Homo sapiens: one gene and its partners. The protein of the gene in region 4 purifies or fractionates together with the protein of the main gene of each other region. This does not show direct contact. Each region holds a gene or a part of one and is shown on either strand. Other genes may lie near its edges.

Region 1 (3,500 bases), about 60 Mb from region 4:
GGTGAAACCCTGTCTCTACTAAAAATAGAAACGTTAGCTGGGCATGGTAGCACGCACATGTAGTCCCAGCTACTTGGGAGGCTGAGGCAGAAGAATCGCTTGAACCTGGGAGATGGAGGCTGCAGTGAGCCGAGGAGATCGCGCCACTGCACTCCAGCCTGGGCGACAGAGCGAGACTCTGTCTCAAAAAAAAAAAAAAAAGAAACAGGGATAGTATCTCCATCACTGGGTTCTTCTGAGGATTACATGATATGTGCATAGAAAGCACTAACACAGTAACTGGCATTAATCAGTACTCAATGTATGATGGTTATGTAAAATTTCTGGTCTTCAAACATTTCTCATGGATGAAACTGTTTCTTACAAAAAAGACAAATAGGCTATAAGTTCCAACTCAGAGATTACTTTCTGCTAAAAAAAAAAAAAAAAAAAGAAAAGAAAAGAAAAAGAAACCATTATCCTAGCATAGAAAGTACCTTGTATAACAGTGGCACAATGGGCGTTTGGTCAAACAGAAGGACATGAGGCTTATTCTCTTGCTGCCAGCCAGAGAGGAATCTGACGTAATTTTTATTTGTAACCTTAAATTGAAAATAGAATGTTAGTCTCAATATTTAATTCTTAACAATTGTATTATACTCCAGTCAGGAGAAAATAAACAAATCAAGTAAGTGTAAAAGATTGCAAAAAATAAAAATGCAGATAACTAATCTTTTTGTCTTCATTTGGCTAAAGCTATTAAAAGAATGGTGATATTGATTTCATATTTTCATTGAACTCTTACAGACTGAAATCATAATCCTGTCTGAAACAATTACTGACCATATTATAAAAACTGAGCTTCCAGAGTTGGTTCTTGCTTAATTACAGAGTATACTTCTTAATATACTAGCCAGCAGAAAATAACACACAACTGCCCCTTTCAATATCTATCTATCTACCTATCTATCTATCTATCATCTATCTATCATGCCTCAGTCTCCCATCTATCTATCACACCTCAGTCTCCCAGCTTGCCCCTCACCCTTTTTTCTGAGACAGGGTCTTGCTTTGTTGCCCAGGCTAGAGTGCAGTGGCATGATCATGGCTCATTGCACCCTCAACCTCCCAAACCTCCCAGGATCAAGTGATCCTCCCACCTCAGCCTCCTGAATAGCTGGAGCTACAGGTACATGGCACCATGCCTGGCTAATGTTTGCATTTTTTGTAGAGATTGGGTCTCAGTATGTTGCCCAGGCTGGTCTTGAACTTATGGACTCAAGCGATGCTCACACCTCAGCCTCCTAAAGTGCTGGGATTACAGGTATGAGCCACCACTCCAGGCCAGCTTGCTCTTTTTAAACGGCGTAAATAAAAATAAGCTGGTCCACCCCCTCTATACATTATATAATTTCATTTATTGTTATCTGAATTGTTACTTTCCTCCACTGATATCTTAAAATATTCCTGAGAGAAATTAAAAACATGAATAAATTATCTAGCTAGAAATTTTTCTTAGTCGTTAAAAAAAGTTTATCTTTCCATACTGCATCTAGAATGATTTATATAAAACTCAAATTTGATCATTTCACTCTTCTGCTCAAACCCCTACAACGGCTCCATGTGGGCCAAGGCCCAAGTTCCTTAAAGGAGCGTGAAGGTGCTCTGAGGCCCTCACAGGGAGATTCCTAATAACCTCTCCATCCCCCTCCTCTGCTGCTCACCAGTGAAAACTTCTTACAAAGCGGGCTATTTCATGTCTCCAGATTTCTGCCTGCCTGCAACCCAACCTGGTCCAAGGGTCACTTCTGCCAGGAAGCCTTTCCCAACTCATTACGATGGGCTCCAACATACTGGAAATAACCACCCGCTTGGGAGCTGCTTGAAACGGCTATGTTAATCTATGCCGGGCACAGAAGAGATATTTTATGTAAATGTTTGAGGATCTATCAGGACAATCTATCACCATTTTAGAAGCCTCCAATATTCTCTGACAAACTTTTAAGTTAATTCCAACAAATATTTCTCCTATAGATAATGATCCCAGTAGGACAGTCTAGGAATAGCACATGTAGAAATACGATGAAAATTTTTTATGTTCACTTTCCCTGTATTCTTAAGAGAATGAATTATTTAAAGCAAAATGAGAGTCCGTTCCTAGTTACTTTGATCCCTAAATTAAGATATTGAAAAAAACATATTAGGTGCTTAAATATGGAAATAATAGACCAATGTGAACTTTATCTGGCTTCTCTATTTCAACCTTTTCTTTGTGAAATTCATTCATATTATTGTCACTGTAAGTTTCTGAAGTTTCAAAAATAATATTTGATTTCATGGAATCTGGCATTTTCCATAGATATGATCGTTAAACATATAACCAAATATAATTAAATTTGCATAAAGACAAATATCTTCACATGAACAAATTTATGAGCCAGAAAGAAATCCCTAATTCTTTCTAACATGTGATTTAATTTTTTTGTTTAGAAAATAGGCACTGTCATTTTAGGCTCAGATTCCTATGACAGTGTAAGTTCTGCAAGATGGGTATTAATAGGAATTAATTCTTTCAGTCTCTGTACTTCATCTGTTTCAATTATTAGTCTCCTACAGACTTCACTTAAACGATTTAGTTTGAGTAATTAATTAATTAATAAGTGTCATGCCTTCCTCACAATGAAACTCAGGTTTGAGAGGACTACAGAAAATGTTCTGGGCAATTAACAGTCCTAGGTACCTCTTAAACTACTTCTCAGCCATAGTTTCCTTGACAGATACTTACTTTCTCCACCAAGTTCCCTGGAAGAAGACTTTCTACAAATTGTCGCAGATTTTCACGGACAACTGCATTGTGGAAGAAGGAGATTTTCCCGTTAATGATTCCTAGGATAGAGGGCGTGCTGTGTGCCCCTAGGTGATGGGCCAGGCGTCTCTCATACCCAGCATGGACCACGCCAATTCCTACACCTGAAAAGAATGGAAGATCCAAATGAAGCCTTTTTATGTCTCCATGGCAGCTGGAAAAAGTGCTAAGTAATTTTTTGGTGTGAAATTGAAATCCCGACCTCATAGGAGATGTCTTTCCTAATAGACTGTCTAGCATTCTTTCACTGCTGGAATTCTAGATTGGTTCAGTTTTTCTGTAGAGCAATCTGGCAATATGTAAGAAGAGTTACAAATGTGTGTGTGTGTGTGTGTGTGTGTGTGTGTGTGTATGCATATACATAAAACAAAATGGGGTCATCTCATACTTATTTCACTTAATACTTGAACAACTTTTCTTGTTCTTTCATCCAACCATATATTTGGAGGGCCAGTTACTCTGCTAACACTGGAGACACATTCAATATTAAAGGCCGATAAATGTACATTTTCTTTTGGATGTCTACTAGACTTCTCAAGCTTAACATTTCCAAAAACGAACCCCTAATCTCCTCCCACAGACCTGTCCTACCCACGTCTTTGCCATTTCAGTTGATGACAGCTCCATCCTTCCAGTTACTCAGGGCAAAAACTGT
Region 2 (3,500 bases), about 50 Mb from region 4:
AAGGATTACCTGATATGGATTCTTCGATCCTTATACACCACAATGGAGGTATCCCAGCCAACAAAAAACTCTCCACAACTTTGCCAGAGATAGAATACCGAGAAAAAGGGAAAGAAAAGGACAAGGATGCCAAAAAACACAACCTTGGAATAAATAACAACAATATTCTACAACCTGTAGACTCTAAAATACAAGAGATTGAGTATATGGAAAACCATATCAATAGTAAAAGATTAAATAATGATCTTGTGGGAAGTACAGAAAATCTCTTGAAAGAGGACTCATGCACTGCTTCCTCAAAAAATTACAAAAATGCCAGTGGAGTTGTGAACTCTTCACCTCGAAGTCATAGCGCCACAAATGGGAGCATTCCTTCCTCATCTAGTAAAAATGAGAAGAAGCAGAAATGCACTAGCAAGAGCCCAAGTACACACAAGGACTTAATGGAAAACTGTATTCCTAATAACCAGCTAAGCAAACCAGACGCACTGGTCAGGTAAGTGCACATGCTGCATCCTTACTAACACTTTCCAGTAAACTTGACATACTCTTGACATACTCCCATATGGGCCTGTAGGGATTGTTTGTAATCAGATATTGTGACTAGTGACGTGTGGTGTTTTACATGAGTTTGTTGGCCACCTTGTGTTATTGTGTTGAAGCATTGATTTCAGCTCTTTGCAGTGTTCTGAATAATGAGTGACACTGATTACTTCCCACATGTGACAAATTGACCTGTAACTTGATTCTTCTAGTCGTGTTGTAAGGCACTTCTTTGGTCCTTGTCCTTTTCTGTTTGCATGTCCAGAGTTCTCTTGGCGTAAACACAAAAAGAAGAGTTTGTGCTTGTTCACGCAAATCTCTGTCAAACAGATATACATTGCAGGAGAGGGGTGAGAAAGTTGTCCTTACTACTTTGTGCTTGTTTTGTTTTTCTGTTTGTTTTTCTGCACTTAGAATATGAATTATCCTAGATAACTCTGGGAAAGTTAGATTTGAAAAGCAATCTCTTTCACAAAAATCCATGGAGAAACAGTGTTAGACACAAAGTTTAATTAGGAATGTTGCTTTTCTCATTTTAATTAAAAGAATTTTTTTTTTTTTTTGAGACGGAGTCTTGCTCTATTGCCCAGGCTGGCACGATCTCGGCTCACTGCAACCTCCGCCTCCTGGCTCCAAGTGATTCTCCTGCCTCAGCCTCCCAACTAACTGGGATTATAGGTGCTTGCCGCCACGCCAGGCTAATTTTTTTGTATTTTTAATAGTGACAGGATTTCACCATGTTGCCCAGGCTGGTCTCAAACTCCTGACCTCAGGTGATCCACCTGCTTCGGCCTCCCAAAGTCCTGGGATTACAGATGTGAGCCACCGTGCCCGGCCATAAAAGAATAACATTGTTTTATTACATTGACTGGCTCAGACTTAATTTTACTATATTTTATATGGCTTATGTTAGGCAAACACAAATATGTTCCTTTCACCTCAGATCTTTAATTTGGAAACTGAGATCTAAACTGGAGCTTTTTTGTGTGTATGTAACTCAAGAGGGCAATTGAAACTCTCCCCTTCCAGTAAGTTATATTCTTCTTTCTCTGGCTTGCTTTAGGCAGCCCTTTAGGCAGTCCGTTTATTCTAGGAGGGAGGCTTTCCAGCATTATAAATGGTATGAACTAGATTATTAATTTGTTTTAATTTTCTGATTGGCAGTTAAACTAAGCGAGGTATATTTGGGTTCTACTAATACAGGCTCTAGAGGTTTCACAGCCCCCAGGCTACTTTTGGAAGTGTGCTATTTGCTGTTGCCTGGCTGGCATCCATATCCATTTGTTAGGACATTCTGGCCATTGTGCCCAGCAGAAAAAACACGTGGAAGAGAACTCTCCTCCAGATGCCCATGGGAGAAAGACCAATTAGTTTACCTTCTATTTCAGAGGAATATCCCACAAATTCACTAAATGCTATACACAAAACATCTGTCACAGCTATTTACCATCCTTTCTCCTACACATGTTTTTTTTTTTTTTTGAGATAGGATCTCACTGTTTTGCCCAGGCTTGAGTGTAGTGGCGTGATCACAGCTAACTGTAGACTCTACCTCCCCAGGCTCAGGTTTTCCTCCCACCTCATCCTCCTGTGTAGCTGGGACTACAGGCGCATGCCACTATGCCTGGCTAATTTTTTAATTTTTTTGTAGAGAGGAGATCTCGCCATGTTGCCCAGGCTGACACAAGTTTAGTAATAGCGGTCAAGCTATTACTAAATGATGGTTTGTGATATTGATTGACTCTACTATCTGATCTGCTTTTAGTAGAGAAGTTCAAGGACCCAGATGGCTAATTGTCCAGTAAGCTGGAGATGATGACATGGGTCCAGTGCCCCCGTGCCTACACCTAAGGAGTATGCTGCTTCTTGTGGTCACTAATGCGTACTCTGCCTTGACCTACAGTGTCCCAGGTATTACTCTGTTTTGGAGAACTACTTACTATCAAATGACTAATAGACAACATTATATTTAAGTAGGTTTATAAGCTCCCATGGTATTATTTTCAACTTTTAATGTTATAAAAAATAAGGGGATCGATAGACTGGATTAAGAAAATGTGGCACATATACACCATGGAATACTATGCAGCCATAAAAAATGAAGAGTTCATGTCCTTTGTAGGGACATGGATGAAACTGGAAACCATCATTCTCAGCAAACTATCGCAAGGACAAAAAACCAAACACCACATGTTTTCACTCATAGGTGGGAATTGAACAAGGAGAACACATGGACACAGGAAGGGGAACATCACACTCCGGGGACTGTTGTGGGGTGGGGGGAGGGGGGAGGGATAGCATTAGGAGATACACCTAATACTACATGACGAGTTAATGGGTGCAGCACACCAACATGGCACGTGTATACATATGTAACAAACCTGCACATTGTGCACATGTACCCTAAAACTTAAAGTATAATAATAATAAAATAAAATAAAGAATACTATGCAAAGAATATAGGTTTTTAAATCACACCTTGGTTGGATCCTGGACCTTCTATTTACTGTCTGAGTGGCCTTGGGCATATTATTTGACCCCTCTGATTTCCATTTCTTGGAAAGTTGAGATAAAACTAATAGAATAGTGCTGTTGTTAAGGTACAGGCATTCAATAAATGTTGGTTCTCTTCCTTCCCCCCCCTCAAAAAAAAGGGTGATGTAAATATCCAATAATGGGAGAAATTTAAAATAAATTATGGTCCATCCATTTGATAAACTTTTCATATAGATACTATAAAATCATACTTTCAAGCCATATTAAAGAATATGGGGAAGTATGTCAAAGCATTTCATGAATAAAGGAGAAAGCAATTTAATGAAAAACAATTTTTTCTAATATACATAGAAAAATGATTTAAAGGGAAAATAACCAAATTGTTAACAATAGTTGTTATCCCTTGATAGTATTGGGCATTTATTTTTTCTTTTTATTTTCATACATTTTCACATTTTTCT
Region 3 (3,267 bases), on a different chromosome or scaffold from region 4:
GCCATGCTGCCCCGTGGCCTTTGGTTACCAGGAGGCTGTCTGGGCAGGACAAGAGGAGCACCTATCTCAGGTCCACAGTCCGCCAACAAGCCCAGCTAATTTTTTGTCATTTTTGTAGAGATGGGGTTTCACCATGTTGCCCAGGCTGGTCTCGAACTCCTGGGCTCAAGTGATCCTCCTGCCTCAGCCTCCCAAAGTGCTGGGATTACAGGCCTGAGCCACCGCAACCGGCTTTGGGTCCACAGTCTTCACAGTTCCCAAGGCATGTTCACCTTGGTTTAGCCTTACTGTGGCCTTGTGGGTTCAGGGTTACCATCCTCATTTTACAGATAGGGACAGTAAGGCTGGCAGAGAGGCCTGTCCTGCCCCAGGTGACAATTTCTCTAGGATCCTGAGCCTTGCCCTGGTCCTACACGCCCTTGGGGACCTCCTCAGGAGGAGGAGCCAGGGGCAGTGGTGCAGAAAGACTACCCAGGTGTATGATGTCACGGACAGGCAGGGAGGTTTTGGGGGCATTTATTTCCGATAGAGACTGGCACAAGCTTTGGGCTAAGGACACCCGCCCCCACCCTCATCTAGAAACAATCTCTCTCGCCAGACTTGATGGCTCACGCCTGTAATCCCAGCATTTTGGGAGGCCGAGTCGGGCGGATCACAAGGTCAAGAGATGGAGGCCATCCTGGCCAACATGGTGAAACCCCATCTCTACTAAAAATACAAAAATGAGCTGGGCATGGTGGCGTGTGCCTGTAGTCCCAGCTACTCAGGAGGCTGAAGCAGGAAAATCGCTTGAACCCGTGAGGCAGAGGTTGCAGTGAGCCAAGATCGCGCCAGCCTGGCGACAGAGTGAGACTCCGTCTCAAAAAAAAAAAAAAAAAAATAGTAAAGAAAAGAAACAATCTCTCTCAGGGTCCAGAAGCTTCAGGGCGTGTCCCAGCTCAGGCTCTGCAGCCTGGGCCAGGGAGGAGGTGGAGGGACACGTGGGCCCCTCTGGAACCCCTCAGGAAGCCCCCTCGGCAGGAGTGCTGAACGCGAGGTGCGTGGTGTATCTTCTCACACTCCCTGCCTCCTCTGGGCCTGATAGGGAAGTGCTCCTGCAGCTGTTGAAGCTTGGGAGGGGAGGAGAGAGGGAGAGATGATGGATGCTGAAGAAAGGCTCTGGCCGAGATCCCACAGCCATTGGCTAGCATGCTCTGACCCATCGCATAGGGGAAACTGAGACTCCACTGGCTGGGCAGAATTAACCAAAGGGACTGAGGCGATTCCTTCAAACCTCACAAATCTAGCTCATTGCTCCTGCTCCCCATCACTCTCCCCCTCCACCCTCCACACCTCAGGACCCCGCTCAAACATTATCTGCCTGTCTCCCCTGATCAAAACCCACTCCCGGCTCCCATAGGCTGCAGGATACAGCCCAGTTCCTCAGCTAGGCACCTGGGGCCCCTGGCCTGGCCTGGCTGCATGCACCCCTCCTGCCCCTCCTGCCCCCACACCTCCCCACCCCCTTTTTAGTCACTCCCTCTCCCCCTCCTCCCCAAATCCCAACAGGGCTAGGTCTCCCCTTTTCTCTAGGAAGCCTTGTGGACACTCTCTGTGCCCCAGGCTCAGGCACCTGAGCTCTGTATGAAATCCTGACACCCCCCCCTTTTTTTTTTTAAATGGAGTCTCACTCTGTCACCCAGGTTGGAGTGCAGTGATGCAATCTCAGCTCACTGCAACCTCCACCTCCCAGGTTCAAGCCATTCTCCTTCCTCAGCCTCCTGAGTAGCTGGGATTACAAGCACGTGCCACCACACCCGGCTAATTTTTTGTATTTTTAGTAGAGCTGGGGTTTCACTATGTTGGCCAGGCCGGTCTTGAACTCCTGACCTCAGGTGATCTGCGGGCCTCAGCCTCCCAAAGTGCTGGGATTACAGGCGTGAGCCACCGCACCCGGCCTGTATGGCGTCTTGAGGCAATGCTCAGAGCTTGGTGTGAAAGCAATTCACCTCCTCCTTGGGCGCCTCCCCGACTGGGGTGTCCGCAGGCGGCACCCACTTGCAATCCCAGATGCTGCCACCAGGGGGTGCACAGTGCCCGCTTGGAAGGTGGGCAGGGGCGGGCGGGGAGGAACTAGAGAGGGAGGGGTTAATGCCCAAGGGCCCCGCCCCTCCCAAGAGGCATGGGCGGTCTCAGCCCGGTCCACTCACCAGGTGTATATGAGCACAGCCAGGAGGACCGTGAGGAGGACGGCCAGGAGGATAGACAGGATGGCGATGATGACCACGGTGCCCGGGCTCTGGGGGCCGGGGACAGCCCGAAGTGCCTGGGCTGAGGGCAGTGATGGGGGCCGCACAGGCGGGCAGGAAAAGAAATTTTACCTGACCGGAAGGGGCCCTTGGGCAGAATCCAGACCAATCACCGCCCTGCCTCCCCTACTACCACCCAGGCCTGGGGGAAGGGGGTGGCTGGGGGAGGGGCGCCTGCAGATTGCAAGATGGTTGGCTGCCTCTGACTCAGTGGTGAGCTGACCTGTTCCCCCAGCCCATCCTCAGTCCTCAGGACCCCCAGGCCCCAGCCCCCTGCCCCTACTGTTTGACCGGAGCCTCTGGCCCCTACCTTGCTGCAGGCGAGTGTCGCTGGACCACTTGGTTTCAGCCACGGGTCCTTCGTCATTCATCACCAGGAACTTCACCCTGAATGGGAGACCCAGCATTGGACATGGGGGTCCCCCGGAGTCCTGAAACCATCAGACTTGGTGCCTGCAAGTCTGTCCCCTGGAGTCCCAGGCCCTGGCGAGAGCAGCCCGGGGAGGGGGCCGGAGGCTGGGGCGAAAGAGCCCAACAGAATGGGTTCAAATCTAGGTGTGACATTTCCAGTGGTGTGACGTCCCTCCCCCTCTCTGGGCTTCTGTGTCCTCATTTGGGAAAGGTAGAGGGCGAGTATTAGATGTCTCAGAACTGAACATGCGTGAATCAAGCATTTAGTGAGGGGAGACCCTGTCTGGATGGAGAGACGCCACCTGAGTGGTCCACACAGCCTGTGGGGACTGGGGCTTGAGGTGGGGAACCTTCTGCTCAAGAAAAGCAGGATAGGCCAGGCATGGTGGCTCACGTCTGTAATCCCAGCACTTTGGGAGGCCAAGGTGGGCCTTCAAGATCACTTGAAGCCAGGAGTTGAGACCCGCCTGGCCAACATGGTGAAACCTCATCTCTACTAAAATTACAAAAATTAGCCAGGCATGGTGGCAGGTACCTGGCCAACATGGCGAAACCCTGTCTCTACTAA
Region 4 (3,500 bases):
ACTCCCCAAAGCAATCTACAGATTCAATGCTATTTCTATGAAGCTACCAATGGCATTTTTCACAGAATCAGAAAAAACTATTCTAAAATTCATATGGAAGTAATAAAGTAATAAAGAGCCCAAATAGGCAAAGTAATCCCAAGAAAAAAGAACAAAGCCAGAAGCATCACATTACCTGGCTTCAAACTATATTGTAAGGCTACAGTAAGCAAAACAGCATGGTACTGGTACAAAAACAGACACATAGACCAATGGAACAGAAGAAAGAACCCAGAAATAAAGCTGCATTCCTATAGCCAGCTGACCTTCAACAAAGTAAACCAAAATCAGCAATGGGGAAAGGACTCTCTACTCAATAAATGGTGCTGGGATAACTGGCTATCCATATGCAGAAGAATGAAACTGGACCCCTACCTTGTTTGATATGGAAAAATTAACTCAAGATGGATCAGAGAATTAAATGTAAGACTTCAAACTATAAGAATCTTAGAAGAAAACATAGGAAACACCATTCTGGACATTGACTTTGGGAAAAATTTATGACTAAGTCCTCAAAAGCAATGACAACAAAAGCAAAAATTGCAAGTGAGACCTAATTAAACTGAGTAGCTTTTGCACAACAAAAGAAACTATCAACAGAGTAAACAGACAACCTACAGAGTGGGAGAAAATATTCACAAACTGTGCATCTGACAGAGGTCTAATATCTAGAATCTATAAGGAACTTAAACAATTGAACAAGTAAAACACCAATAACCCCATTAAAAATAGGCAAAAGAAAGACATGAATGGACAGTTCTCAAAAGAAGACATACAATTAAAAAAAAGAAGACATACAAGCAGCAAAAAAAAAAAAAAAAACATGAAAAAATGCTCCACATCACTAATTACCAGAGAAAGGCAAATCAAAAATCACGAGATACCATCTCATATAAGTCAGAATAACTATTATTAAAATTTAAAAATATTTGGGTGAGGCTGCAGAGAAATGGGAATGCTTATAAGCATATATACACTGTTGGGAATGTAAATTAGTTCAGTCACTGTGGAAAGCAGTTTGGAGGTCTCTCAGAGAGCTTAAAACAGAACTACCACTTGACCCAGCAATCCCACTACTGGGCATATATCCTCAAAAAACAAATTATTCTACCAGAAAGACACATGCACCCGCATGTTAATTGCAGCACTATTCACAATAGCAAAGACATGGAATCAACCTAGGTGCCCATCAACAGTGAATTGGATGAAAAAAAAAAAGGTACAAATACACTATGGAATACTATATAGCCAAAAAAAGAACAAAATCATTTCCTTTGCAGCAACATGGATGCAGTTAGAAGCCATTATCCTAAATGGATTAATGCAGTATCAGAAAATCAGATACCACATGTTCTCGCTTATAAGTGGGAGCTAAACAACAGGTACTAATAGACATAAAGATGGCAACAATTGATACTGGGACTGCTAGAGTGGAGAGGGAGGTTGGGGGAAAGGGTTGACAAATGAACTGTGGGGTACTATGCTCAGTACCTAGGTGACAGGATCAACTGTACTCCAAACCTTATCATTACACAATATAACCAGGTAACAATGTGTATATGTACCCCCTGAATCTAAAATAAATGTTGAAAAACTCTCAAACCCAAATTAAATATACATAAATAAATTTACATTTTATTAAAAATGTATTACTACTCTAGATTTGCCTTACAGGAAAGTCAAAACTTATTTTAAGCTTAGCCTATGATTATATACATTTGTACGTACAAGTTTAAAAATATCCAAAGTCATAAAATTTAACAAAAAAGGTAAAAGCTACTTACTGGGCATTTATGCTTCACAAACTAGTATTAACAGCACCTTTCACTTTGAAATACTTTTTTTCGAAGTGAAAAACACATTTTTCTTATTTATCTCAGCCTCTTATCACACTTTTGTTTGGTTGCACAAGAATGTCATCACATTCTTTACTCATGGCAATGACATTGATTCTGCTGATTTAACACCTTTGCTTTACTGAAAGAGTATTGGTGACTAAAGGAGGACCATTATTGCTCTTTAAAAAATGTTTAATCATAAATAGATGTGTCCAGGGATATCTTAACTGTATGAGGTATGATAGGCTTGAAATTATAAAGCACAGCTTTGGAATACACCCCTCCACAATCCTTAACCACTCAGAAAGTCTTACGTTAATACATATTATTTTTTGAACTTTATGAAAACTGCATTGAATAATTATCACACTTCCTACACACCAACTTGTATTTAATGATTTATGGAAACATTACTAAGACAAAAGAAGGACATAGCCTTCACTTGACTAATTCTAAGACCAAGGCTCCCTATGTTTTAACTTCTGTAAACTCTCACTGCCTGAATAAATACCTTAGGTATAATGAAGCGTAGGCAAATAATAGATTATAAATAAGTTGACCGAGGTCAAGAGAGGCATTTAACCTATTTAACCTATTTGGGAAAACAACCCATTTTCAAATTTTTAACAGCAGTAAATGGTAGAAAAGTATACTAATTAGAAATAATCATTTACTAAAGCAAATCTTTGAGGAAGTCTAATGAGTAGTTTCTTTAGCCAATTGCTTGTATTAAAGGACTGGAATAACTTTTGAATATTCAGAATTTTCACAAGTTCAGACTTCCTTCAGTTGGCCCTATTTAATGAGTTTTTATGCTGCATCTTGTATTTCTGAAAATTGAGTTTTTGTTTGTTTTGAGGCTGAGAATTTTGAGAACTGTCATTGTCAGACCAATGTCTCAGGAATCATTAGGAAAACAACTCGGGGTGGGAAGGTGGTTAGATGATGTCGTTGAGTGATCTTTATGGAAGGGAAATTTGTGAGAGATTTTCTAAATAAAGATGCAAGATTTTCATTGCTTTAGATATGCTAAATTTTTTTCCTGGAATCAGTCAGACCTTGAGATAGCTCTTTACCCAGCTTGTGTTATTTTGGTCCCTGCAGAAGTGCTTTTGCTGATTTGTGCTTACCTGTTATAATATTGGCTGGCATTGAGAAACTTGACATTGTATTAAGTTCAAGGATGTTATTTCTCTCTCTTTTTTATTATACTTTAAGTTGTGGGGTACATGTGCAGAATGTGCAGGTTTGTTGCATAGGTGTACACATGCCATAGTGGTTTACTGCACCCATCAACCCGTCATTTACATTAGGTATTTCTCCTAATGCTGTCCCTCCTCTAGCCCCCCAGCCCCCCAGCCCCCGACAAGCCCCAGTGTTTGATGTTCCCCTCCCTGTGTCCATGTGTTCTCATTGATCAACTCCCACTTATGAGTGAGAACATGCGGTGTTTGTTTTTTTGTTCTTGTGTTAGTTTGCTGAGAATGATGGTTTCCAGTGTCATCCATGTCCCTGCAAATGACATGAACTCAAGGGATGTTATTTCTTGTGCTGATCACTGTTTTTAGAATCTGTATTATGAGGATCTCATGGATAAATTTCTCTGAAATGTCGCTAGCCAAA

The links.
Region 1: the proteins of SLC44A5 (region 4) and DNAJC16 purify together in Homo sapiens (affinity purification with mass spectrometry; one large-scale study listed by BioGRID and IntAct). This does not show direct contact.
Region 2: the proteins of SLC44A5 (region 4) and MACO1 purify together in Homo sapiens (affinity purification with mass spectrometry; one large-scale study listed by BioGRID and IntAct). This does not show direct contact.
Region 3: the proteins of SLC44A5 (region 4) and UPK3BL1 purify together in Homo sapiens (affinity purification with mass spectrometry; one large-scale study listed by BioGRID and IntAct). This does not show direct contact.

Annotation. Positions count from the first base shown.
Region 1 is NC_000001.11:15,543,848-15,547,347, reverse strand, and holds part of DNAJC16 (dnaJ homolog subfamily C member 16 isoform 1 precursor), read right to left. Parts: intron 2,950-3,500; coding exon 2,765-2,949; intron 582-2,764; coding exon 477-581; intron 1-476. UniProt on the Homo sapiens protein: Plays an important role in regulating the size of autophagosomes during the formation process.
Region 2 is NC_000001.11:25,458,397-25,461,896, forward strand, and holds part of MACO1 (macoilin), read left to right. Parts: coding exon 1-496; intron 497-3,500. UniProt on the Homo sapiens protein: Plays a role in the regulation of neuronal activity.
Region 3 is NC_000007.14:102,636,525-102,639,791, forward strand, and holds the end of UPK3BL1 (uroplakin-3b-like protein 1 precursor), read right to left. Parts: intron 2,676-3,267; coding exon 2,599-2,675; intron 2,311-2,598; coding exon 2,190-2,310; intron 1,110-2,189; coding exon 1,001-1,109; 3' UTR 501-1,000; downstream 1-500.
Region 4 is NC_000001.11:75,601,115-75,604,614, reverse strand, and holds part of SLC44A5 (choline transporter-like protein 5), read left to right. Parts: intron 1-3,500.